2 separate regions of the Homo sapiens genome follow, and region 2 is linked to region 1. The links come from fine-mapping of genetic effects on gene expression. A gene starts in region 1. The other region holds a variant in brackets. All regions are shown on one strand. Distances are from middle to middle. Region 1 holds the start of GALNT8 (polypeptide N-acetylgalactosaminyltransferase 8). Region 2 overlaps KCNA6-AS1 (KCNA6 antisense RNA 1).

What was found.
Region 2: its variant is fine-mapped to the expression of GALNT8 in whole blood (TOPMed, PIP 0.92).

The regions. Positions count from the first base shown.
Region 1 is chr12:4,717,436-4,722,696 of GRCh38, forward strand. GALNT8 (polypeptide N-acetylgalactosaminyltransferase 8) reads left to right here and starts at 2,965. Exons shown (of 11, transcript NM_017417.2): 1 at 2,965-3,453. The coding sequence starts at 3,243. It overlaps GAU1 (GALNT8 antisense upstream 1), which reads right to left and starts at 2,667. Exons shown (of 4, transcript NR_110112.1): 1 at 2,430-2,667. RefSeq lists enhancers at 2,086-3,081, 3,082-4,077, 4,078-5,073.
Region 2 is chr12:4,813,950-4,819,439 of GRCh38, forward strand. All of the region lies in intron 1 of KCNA6-AS1 (KCNA6 antisense RNA 1), which reads right to left. It also overlaps a transcript of KCNA6 not described here. Among named protein-coding and RNA genes, the nearest start is that of KCNA6, 7.4 kb to the left of the region's middle. The variant T/C (reference allele first, on the strand shown) is at 2,408.

The DNA.
Region 1 (5,261 bases):
AGGCATGTGCCACCATGCCTGGCTGATTTTTTTAAATTTTTTGTAGAGATGGGGTTTTACCGTGTTGCTCAGGCTGGTCTTGAACTCCTGGGCTCAAGTGATCTGCCTGCCTCAGCCTCCCAAAGTGCTGGGATTACAGGTGTGAGCCACCATGCCATGCCAATTTAAAAAAAAGTTTATTTTTTAGTAGAAACAGGGTCTCAGTATGTTGCCCAAGCTGCTCTCAAACTCCTGGGAATCAAGCCATCCTCCTCCTGCCTCAGCCTCCCAAAGTGCTGTGATTGCAGGCATGAGCCACCATGCCCGGCTGGTGTTGCTGTCTGTTGATAGGCTCTTCCAAGTTGAGATTTTCCTGGTTGTTGATATGACAAGTGATTTTCTATTGCATCTTGGCCATTCTGAATATAACTTTTTGAGACTCTGGATCCTATGTAAATCTGTTTTAGCAGGCCTTTCATACACTGTTCTGGTGGGGAGAGGGAGATTTCATCTCATCGCTGCCAGGTGGGAGAGGAAGCCCAGGTTCCATGCTTGGCCTCCACTGACACCTGGTGGGGAGGGCTGCCTCATTACTGATGGGTGAGGGAGGGAGTTCAGGTTCCCCACTAGCCCTCTGCTGACACCACACTGGCTGAAAAGGGGAGGGCCACTGTTCCTTTACTGATATCATGTGGGGACAATGACAAAAATGCCAGCTCCCCAAGAGACCTTCACTGACACACCCTGGAGGGGAAGGTGGGGGATGCAGGGGCAAACCCTCACAGCTGGGGTGAGGTTGGAAGTCTAGGCTCCCCACGAGGCCTCTGTGGATGTGGTGGGCATGGCACTGCAAGGTTTTCAGTGGCATTTGGCTGGAGTAGGGCAGTTGTTGTCTAAACATCTTCTGTCTTGCTAGGCTTCCCATTTCCTGTTTCTTTGGTTAGAGAAAGCAGCTTTTTCTTGGGGCTTCTATTGTCTCTGCCCATTGCATTTCCAAGTTGTTGACTGCTCCAGCATCCAGCAACTTGGAATCTATTTCCTACAATAGCTAGGATATCTGGAGATCTCTAGTCAGCCTGCCCTGTTCTCTCTACCTTTCAGAGTCTTCTTAGGTTTGTTTTACATATCATGTGTACTTTTTACTTGCCTTGATGGGAAGGAATAGAGAAGATAAATGTAGGTATTTCTTCTTGTCCCAGAAGCAGAAGGGTTATGCTTTTTTGTTTGTTTGTTTTTTGTAGTTGTTGTTGTTGTTGTTTGAGATGGAGTTTTGTTCTTGTTGCCCAGGCTGGAGTGCAGTGGCGCGATCTCGACTCACTGCAACCTCCGCCTCCTGGGTTCAAGCGATTTTCCTGCCTCTGCCTCCCAAGTCGCTCGGATTACAGGTGCCTGCCACCATGCCCAGCTAATTTTGTTATTTTTAGTAGAGATGGCGTTTCACCATGTTGGCCAGGCTGGTCTTGAACTCCTGACCTCAGGTGATCCACCTGCCTCGGCCTCCCAAAGTGCTGGGATTACAGGCGTGAGCCACTGCGCCTGGCTGGATCATGCGTTTCTTATGTTTTGAGTCTAATTTGCAAGTGGGAGGCTGGGAGACATTTTCTATCCCTGCGAAACAGAAGAAGTGATTCCTTTTCATTTTGTTCATTTTCATCCTGTTTTTCCTAAAGCCACATTACTTTCCTTTAATCCACATGTCCGCCTCAGCACATGTCACCATGTGCTGTGTTTGGGACGTAGTAAATAGTCCAAAGAGCCAGGCCGGGGTGGAAGCTGTGATTTTGACGGGATTGACAGTAGACTGAGAACTTTGAACTTTTAGCCTTGGGGAACAATTTTATGTGTTTATTCTACAATGATGATCACTGGTGATTTGTCCAAAACATATTATAAGTGTGAGGTGTGGAGGCAAAGGAGTTACTGGAAGCTGGGGCAGGGCAGAAGCCCAGTGTATGAAGTTGTGCAGAGGACAAGCAAAGGACAGAGACCAGTGAATCGGAGTCATCCCCTGAGGCTCAACCCCGGGCACCGCCTCCAGCTCTTCTCCACCTGCTTCTAGGCAGTGAAGTCCTAGGAACTAGCAAGAAAGTCTGTCCTTAAGTTTGTGGGACAAGCATTTGTTGCACACCTACTATGTCCAAAACCCTGTAGAGTTAGGTAAAAAGACATCTTAGATCCCAGCTCTCCAAAAAAGCAAGGATCTAAGTGTACAGAGACTTCTTGCTTCGTGATTTCTTCTTCATCCTATTTATCCCCTTCTTATACCCACAGGACCAGACCTCACATGCCCTATCAGAGTCTCCCAGGTGGTTTTTCCAGGGAGAGAGAACATTAAACATCAAACAAACATATATAGAGAAAAGCCTCTCACCCAGGCAGCCTGAGCTAGCTGCAGGAGCAAGCATTCTTCTGACTTCTGAGACAGTACAAGGTGTGTCCAGGTGACTTACCTGTCACTGGGCAGCTGCCATGCGCACTCCTCACACCTGACGCTGCTCAGGGAGAAGCCAGGCAGCTATAATAGTGTTCTTGGCCGGAGAACATCTGGCCTAGCAGGCAGGGTGTCATCTATGAAGCTGGGTGGAGAGAAAGCTGTTGGGGAAACCAGCCCCACACCACCCAGCGGATACCCCGAGTCCGGCGGAGACAAAGGAGTTAGAAAGAGACAGAACAAGCGTTTAAAAGGCAGGTCCAGGGGACCAGAGCGTTGGAGGCTTGCTCACGGCCCAGAGCTCTGGGCTCCACCCAATTTATTGGTTTACAAGCTCTTTGTTCTTAGGGCAGATGGGAAGGGGAGGAAGGGATGAGGAAAAGGATTAATCAGTGAGTCATTCGATAAGATGTGTAACAGTGGCGGTTTCTGTGAATTTCCTTGAGCAAAGGCGTGTGTCTAAACTACTTAAGATCTTTAATGACTGAAATGGGTGGGAGTGGGTTTCAGGAGGAGCCAAGATGTTTGATTATACTCCTCTGCTTCAAGGGAGTGTTATCTCCCTGAGCAACCTGTGGAAAGCCGCTGAGCAACCTGTGGAAAGCCGCTGAGCGGTTATCCTCTCGGGGCATAAAGACAAAGAAGGCAATAAGGAGACTTTGCTCCTCAGAGGCCACCCGTGGCTTCCCATGGGTGTCTCACACAGGGGAGACCAACTCAACTGGCACCTAGAACTCTCTTTCCCACAAAAGCTAGGCTGGTTCTGATTCTTAACCTGCTCCAGCAGTGACACACTCAGTCCCACAGGGAGTGGACGACCCCCAGGAAGAAGATGATGTTTTGGAGGAAACTCCCCAAAGCCCTCTTCATTGGGCTGACTCTGGCCATTGCTGTCAATCTCCTTCTGGTATTTTCTAGCAAGGGGACTTTACAAAACCTGTTTACGGGTGGTCTCCACAGGGAGCTTCCTTTACATCTGAATAAACGCTACGGGGCAGTGATAAAGAGACTCTCCCACTTGGAGGTGGAATTGCAGGATCTGAGTAAGTTTACAATGCTAACCTGGAAGGTGTGTGTGTGGGTGTGTGTGTTTGGGGCACTTAGGAAAAAGGGATATGGAAGGAAAAATGGGTGAGAGGTCACATTTTCATCTCAGTCGCTCATTGAAGCATCTGACACTGAATTCTGTGCCTTCAAATGGGAGATGGGTATTGAGAATGAAGTGAGTAGAAGTGGAAATTAGAGCAAGCAGTATGGGGGAGGTGAGCATGTGTGTGTGTATGCGTGTGTGGGCTTGTGCACATGCATTATCATTATATCTACATATGTGCAGGCAACGAGAAGAATAAGAATCCCAAGGGCCATAGACCTGTCCTTAGGCCTATTGAAGGGGTGGGTTGCACCTCCACACCTGTGGGTGTTTCTCGTTAGGTGGAACGAGAGACTTTGGAAGAGAAAAAGACACAGAAACAAAGTATGTAGAGAGAAATAAGGGGGCCCAGGGGACCAGCGTTCAGCATACGGAGGATCCCGCCAGCCTCTGAGTTCCCTTAGTATTTATTGATCATTCTTGGGTGTTTCTCGGAGAGGGGGATGTGTCAGGGTCATAGGATAATAGTGGAGAGAAGGTCAGCAGATAAACACGTGAACAAAGGTCTCTGCATCATAGACAAGGTAAAGAATTAAGTGCTGTGCTTTAGATATGCATACACATAAACATCTCAATGCCTTAAACAGCAGTATTGCTGCCCGCATGTCCCACCTCCAGCCCTAAGGCGGTTTTCTCCTATCTCAGTAGATGGAATATACAATCGGGTTTTACACCGAGACATTCCATTGCCCAGGGACGGGCAGGAGACAGATGCCTTCCTCTTGTCTCAACTGCAGAAAGGCGTTCCTTCCTCTTTTACTAATCCTCCTCAGCACAGACCCTTTACGGGTGTCGGGCTGGGGGACAGTCAGGTCTTTCCCTTCCCACGAGGCCATATTTCAGATGGTCACATGGGGAGAAACCTTGGACAATACCTGGCTTTCCTAGGCAGAGGTCCCTGTGGCCTTCCGCAGTGTTTTGTGTCCCTGGGTACTTGAGATTAGGGAGTGGTGATGACTCTTAACGAGCATGCTGCCTTCAAGCATCTGTTTAACAAAGCACATCTTGCATAGCCCTTAATCCATTTAACCCTGAGTCGACACAGCACATGTTTCAGGGAGCACGGGGTTGGGGGTACGGTTACAGATTAACAGCATCTCAAGGCAGAAGAATTTTTCTTAGTACAGAACAAAATGGAGTCTCCTATGTCTAGTTCTTTCTACACAGACACAGTAACAATCTGATCTCTCTTTCCTTTCCCCACGCCTATGTGTGGTAGGGGCTGTTGAAGAGAGGTGGCAATCTCTGGGGCAAGGGCCTCGCTTCCATTTTGCGGTGTGCTCCTTTCATGAACTAATGAGGGCTTTGTTAGAGGACCTAAGATCGAATCCTGATGTGCCATTGTGGTTGTGTGACTTTGAGCAAGTGCTTCTCTCTCTCAGCCTCAGGTTCCTGGTCTGTAAATGGAGATGATGATAACAATAGTGATAGTTATCAACCTGACCTAATAGGGTTGTGAAGTAGATGCAGAAGGTGATCTATAAACTGCTCTGTGCCAAATTTTAACCTCCTCATTTAAACTTAAGGGTAAGATTTCAACACATTCTGGGGTTTGTTTGTGATTCCGGCTCACCATGGAAGTCTAATGCCTCTGAATTTTATGTGCCTGTGCATCCAACTTCAGCAAGGGAAGCAGCAATTTCCCCCTGCTCCCAGGTAACAGGGATCAAATGCTGGAACCCCATAGGGAGGTGTTTTATG
Region 2 (5,490 bases), 97 kb after region 1:
CGTAGCAACCTTCCAGACTGTTCTCTCTATCTTCTGCTTTGGGCATCAAGGGAGACCAGGGGACTACATCTTCCCAGCTTCTCAAATGGGAGCACCTCCCACATCGTGGCTTAGGGGCTGGGAGTGCCAGGGCACGGATGTGGGACTTTTGGAAAATGTGGAGGAAGCAGGGCCTCAAAGCTTCCTGTCTGGACTTTTCTTCCTAGTTTCCCCACCCAGTCATTGAAGCTGCCTCATCTTACTCCTGATTCTTCAGAAATTTGAATGTTAAGCAACCAGTTAAACCAACGTCAGTATTAATTTTTTCAAGCTGTCGAGGGGAGCCCTTAGAGGGGACAACTTCTTGGAGTGGCGGCCAAGCTGGGCCTTACCAGGTGTGATCATAGTCTTAGGTATCATGGAGTTCCCATCTCCGCAGAGGCAGGCTCTTCCCAGCTCCACGAGAGGCGGAGAATTGCAACTTCTTCCTCTCTGGGAACGGCCTATCTAGCTCCTGGGAGGAATCTCAAAGATCTTTCTTCTTAAGACATCGAAGAAAAACTGAGAGGCTGTAGCTCGACCTAGTTTCTGTGAAGAATTTTGTCAAGTGATCCCTCTCGGACCCTGAGCCTCTTTATTTGGATTTTGTGCCTTGAGCACCAAGAGAATATGCACTCTGGGTTGCCTGGACAGCTGGGGTGGTGATTCACAGGAAGGGTCCAAGCCATCACTACACCTGACTCAAGCCGGAAAGAGCTCCCAGAGGACTTCCTGGAGCTGCCAGCCTCAGCCTGAGATGCGGGATATTCGTCCCCAAGGAGCGAGGAGGGACAGCTCGCCTTCTTTGCAGGTGAGGTAGGTTCTACTGGAGGGGAATTTTGGTTTTGGCTCAGTCCTGCAGGCAAAATTAGAACGGGGTGGGGAGAGAGAGAAAGTGGGGAAGCGTGTGCATCTGGAGAGAGGCAAGGTTTTCATTCCCCTTCCCTCAGGGGCTACCTCGCTTTTTCTGTGTATTTTTCTTTGACTCCATTAACTTCAGTTTCCTTTTTCTCTGTTTCTGTCCCCTTGATGCTGCTGGCCCCTGTAAAAAATTATCTCTTTTTCTGTGCATTTTTCTCTTTCCTTCTTTTCATTCTTACTGTCTCTGCCTTTTTTCCCCTTTCTCCAGTTTTCTTTCTTCTGGTTTTCCCCCTCTGTTCTTTTACCATCTTCTTCCTTCTATGTGTGTCTTCCTGCTTATCTTTCTCCCTCTCTCCACCTTTTCAGTGGCTGGGAGCACCTAGAGTGTTGACGTCGAGGTCGCACATTGAACTGTAGGACAGCTGTGCTTGCTAAGGTCTGTCTGCAGCAGGAGTATTCCACTTTTTCCTGACTTCTCACTCTGCCATTCTTTCCTACCATGCTCACCTCTGTGGAGGCAAGTCCTGAACCTGCCAAGCAAGATGAGACTGCCATGGGCTCAGAAAAATGTCTCCCAGAAATTTCCTGAACCTGCAAGCATAAATGAGAGAAGGCAGGCTGGGAGGGAGAGAATGACCCTGAGAAGTCTCAGACAAATCCTCTGCTGAGTAGCCCTGGACCACCTCAGGTTCTCCAAGCTTAGGAGGCTGGCAGAGAGGTCAAAGACAGAGGAACAGTAGAAATGTCAAATAAACAGAGAAAAGAGGGCTTAGGAGGCAGGCATAAGGTTGGAGTTAGCCTGGAAAAAGCCTTAAATAGGGGATGGCTTTAGAACTGCCCTTAATTCACTTGAAGGTTTTGCTAGTATCTGGCTGTCTCTCTCGGGTACTGAAGGCAGAACAAAAGGAAAGGACATAAATCTCTGTGGTGCAAGGTGCAGGGAACACTCCTTGACAAGGAGGATTAAGATTCACCAGGCAGTCCGCAAGGAGAATTGATGGTCTCCTTGCTAGAAGTCTTAGAGCATGGGCTAAGTCCCACCTGCAGCAGGACACTAGGACAACCTGAGGGGCCCCCATGGGGTTGAAGGTTGTGCTATTACAATTGGCCCCAGATAAGTTTTGGGGGATAATAGAAATGCTGTGAAGCAGGATTGTGGTAATAATCATACAACTCTAAAAATCGCACCCCAAAATCATTGAATTGTGAAAAAAAAGAAAGCAACGAGTCTAATAATCTGGGAGTTTTCCATCTGGGCTGGGAGAACGGTTTGGTCCTATAAATCTAGAAGCTTAGCATGTCTAAAAATGGACCAGACAATATCTAGAATAGAATGACAGTTTTTTTCTTCTGCCACATGGGGACACTTTAGAGCTTATATGCAGTCGATCGTTGCTATTCATGCACAATACCACGAACTGGTGTGTGTGTGTGTGTGTGTGTGTGTGTGTGTGTGTGTGTGTGTGTGTCTGTGTGTGCTTCGTTTTGACATCAAATTGTTATGAGAGTTACATGCTTTTCTCTTTTT[T/C]CTTTTTTTCCTCTAAAGATATGTCATGCCATTTTTTGGGTAAGTGCAGGGCATAATTAGCATGCACTGAACTATGATATATATGTTGAACATTATTCATTATACAGGACTACGGTCTTGAGCTTGCCCAGGGAACTTACACTTTGCTGGCAAAAAGAAAAAAACTCCAAGAAAAGTTCCCACAAACTAAAAACCCCACCAAATCCCTGCACCTGTAAACTCAGAATTCCTTAAGAGATTGCATAGGGCCCAAGGTTTTATGTATTTATCTACTATGGTTATTATTTTATTTTTGAATTTTTTGAAATTTTTTTTGTGGGTACATAAAGGTTTTATTTTCCCTGGCCCCCTACCTACAGTCCCTCTACAGTCGTTATTGATGCTTAACAGCCCTATGAAGAGGTCCCAGCAGTCTTTGGTGCTTCCGGTAAACAAAAGAAGTGGACGGTAACGGCCTTCATTTGTCTTACTGAGCCTTTCAATGATTCTCTCCCAGACTCTGATCCCCTCTTGGCCTGCTTTGCCTTGTGCCCACTGGACCCTCCCTTCCCTCTCCTTGGTGCTTTCCTCAGATGCACCAGCCAGTCCTGTGGCTTGTCATTTCTCCTCTCCGCTGGCTGAGCCCTTGCTTGCAGCAGCATTTCTATCTGCCTGCAACTCAACATACATTCCAAGATAGATTCCCAGAGAGCGTGGTCCTTCCAGGACAATCTGGCTGGAGCTGCCATCCTGGCTCACATGGGTTTTGACTGTGTGTTATTGCCATGGGAAGGAAGTGGGGAGGAAAGTGTCCTCCAATCCTACCTTGTCACAGTCACTTAGGGGAGGAAAAGAATTCCATTTACTAGGTGGTAGGAGTTCCTCTCTCCATCCCGCTTCATATTTTGCCTTGGGTTGCACAGATAGCTCATGGCAGAACAGGGTCTGGAGCTTGGCAGTTGGCAGGGAGAGGGATCTTCCCAGACATAGGCCGCGGGGAAGAAAGACAGATGGGCTTTTAGCCTCTCATCTTGCCAGGTCTCCTGATGAACCACTTTCCTGTGCTGGCCTTGAGTGAGTCTCTGTGGGGTTGGGAATGGTCATGTTTTTCATGTCCCTTTGTTCTGAACTTGAGAAAATAGTTCACCCTGCCTCTTGGTCTTCTTGGTCCTCATCCCCTGGCTTCACCTGGTACCCTAAAGGGGGAGTGGAAATCTATCAGCCACTGCCTTTGAAGGGTTATCAAAGCAGCTGCTGTGTTTGAAGGTGCACATTAACAATAGGAGAGGGACTCCCTCATTTTCAGAACAAAAGAGGAAAGGTTCCTACCCTACAGGAAGTATCATTCGCACTGGTCTAACCTTGGCTATCACTTGACCTGTTTGGGGACTAGTCCTGATGGGATTTATTACAATTTTTTTTTTAATCCAACTCCAACCTCATCATTGTTACTCTAAAGAGAATTCCTCACTCCTCGGTCACGAGCCTCAGCAGATACACTTTACCTCCTCCTGGAAAACATTTTGGAATCTTAAGCAGCTTCTGCTGCAGGCTGCAAGGAGCGCAGACAGACCCTGGCTCTTTGGTGAGAGCAAAGGCGACATTTCAAAAGGAAATTGCAGCCACGCAGTCTGCTGGCGCTGCTATTTTTGACATGCTTGCTGTTCTCTCAGGGCTTGACAACCGCTGTCTCCAGGAGACAGACAAACCTGCTCTTGGCAGCAGAGACACTGCTTTGAAAAAGAACATAGGAAGACAGTCCTGCAGCTGGGAGGGGCGGGGAGGACTTGCCACTGGAAGCGTGGCACCTGGCTAGTGGGGCTGCAGATCTGAGGTTGCAGGATTTATCCTCACCTAGGGAATCCTGACCTTGCGTTGCATCCTTCCCACTGGGAATAGTCCTAGCAAGAATAAGAATGGTGCTATTCATTTACAGAACATTGTCAAACACGTTCAGTGCTTTCAGACATCGTGCGATTTAACAAAGGGTTTAAGAGCATAGTTGCTGGAGCCTGATCGTCGCGGCTCAAATCCCTCCTTTGCTGGGTAACATGGGGCAAGTTATGAAACAGTTCTGTGGCCTCAGTTTCTTTCTCTGTCAAATGGAGGATAATAATAGTACCAATCTGATAGGGTTGTTTTGAGGATTAAATGAATTAATGTATGTACAGTGTTTAAATGTACAATGTCAGCTGTTATTATCATCCTGCAGCAGTGAAATGAAGTAGGTAGGCTAGGCTTTGTTTTTTTCTTTGGCAGATAAGAAAACTGAAGCTCAGAGGGGTTGTGATGTCTTTAAAGGCACACAGTAATGTGTGTTTCATCCTCTTCAGGGGAGATGGAACAGAATGGAATGCAGTGAGGGTCTAACTGTTATTGGGCAAGAAGAATGAAGCCATAGCTCCTAAATGTGTTTATAGACTTCTGTTTACATGCCAGCTTGTCTCTGATGGAGCAGCAGCAGGTGTCCTGTGCTTTTGTTCCCTATGGGTCCCTGAAAGTGCACACACACACACACACACACACACATATGCATATACACACATACGTATATACACACATAAATATATATACATACATACACATACATACATACACAAAAACACACACATACACATATATACACATATGCACACACAAAACCACATATACACACACGTATATATACAGAAACATGAATATACATATGCACATGTATACACACGTATATGCACACACAAACATATACACACGTATGCACAGGCACATACATGCATGCTTATACATATACCCACGTATATACACAAACACATATGGTGCTATATATTCTATATGTGTGTAGCATATATACGTGGAACATCTTTCTATGGATCCCTTTCTCAGTACTGCCACTGATCTCCCTCTCCCATTTTAACATTCTCAGTGGTTGACACTGCATTCGAGTTTTCCTCACACACCTGCTCCTGCCTTCTTCCTTGGGAAGAATGCAGGGTCTTATAGTTAGCAGAAGGGACAGAACCCACAAGCCAGCCCCTGGCCCAGAGTTTTCCTACCCTGTTCCAGTGGCTTTCAAACTTCCACTGTCCTGGTCCTCACCGTCAGCATGCATTCTTTTCCCCAGTCAC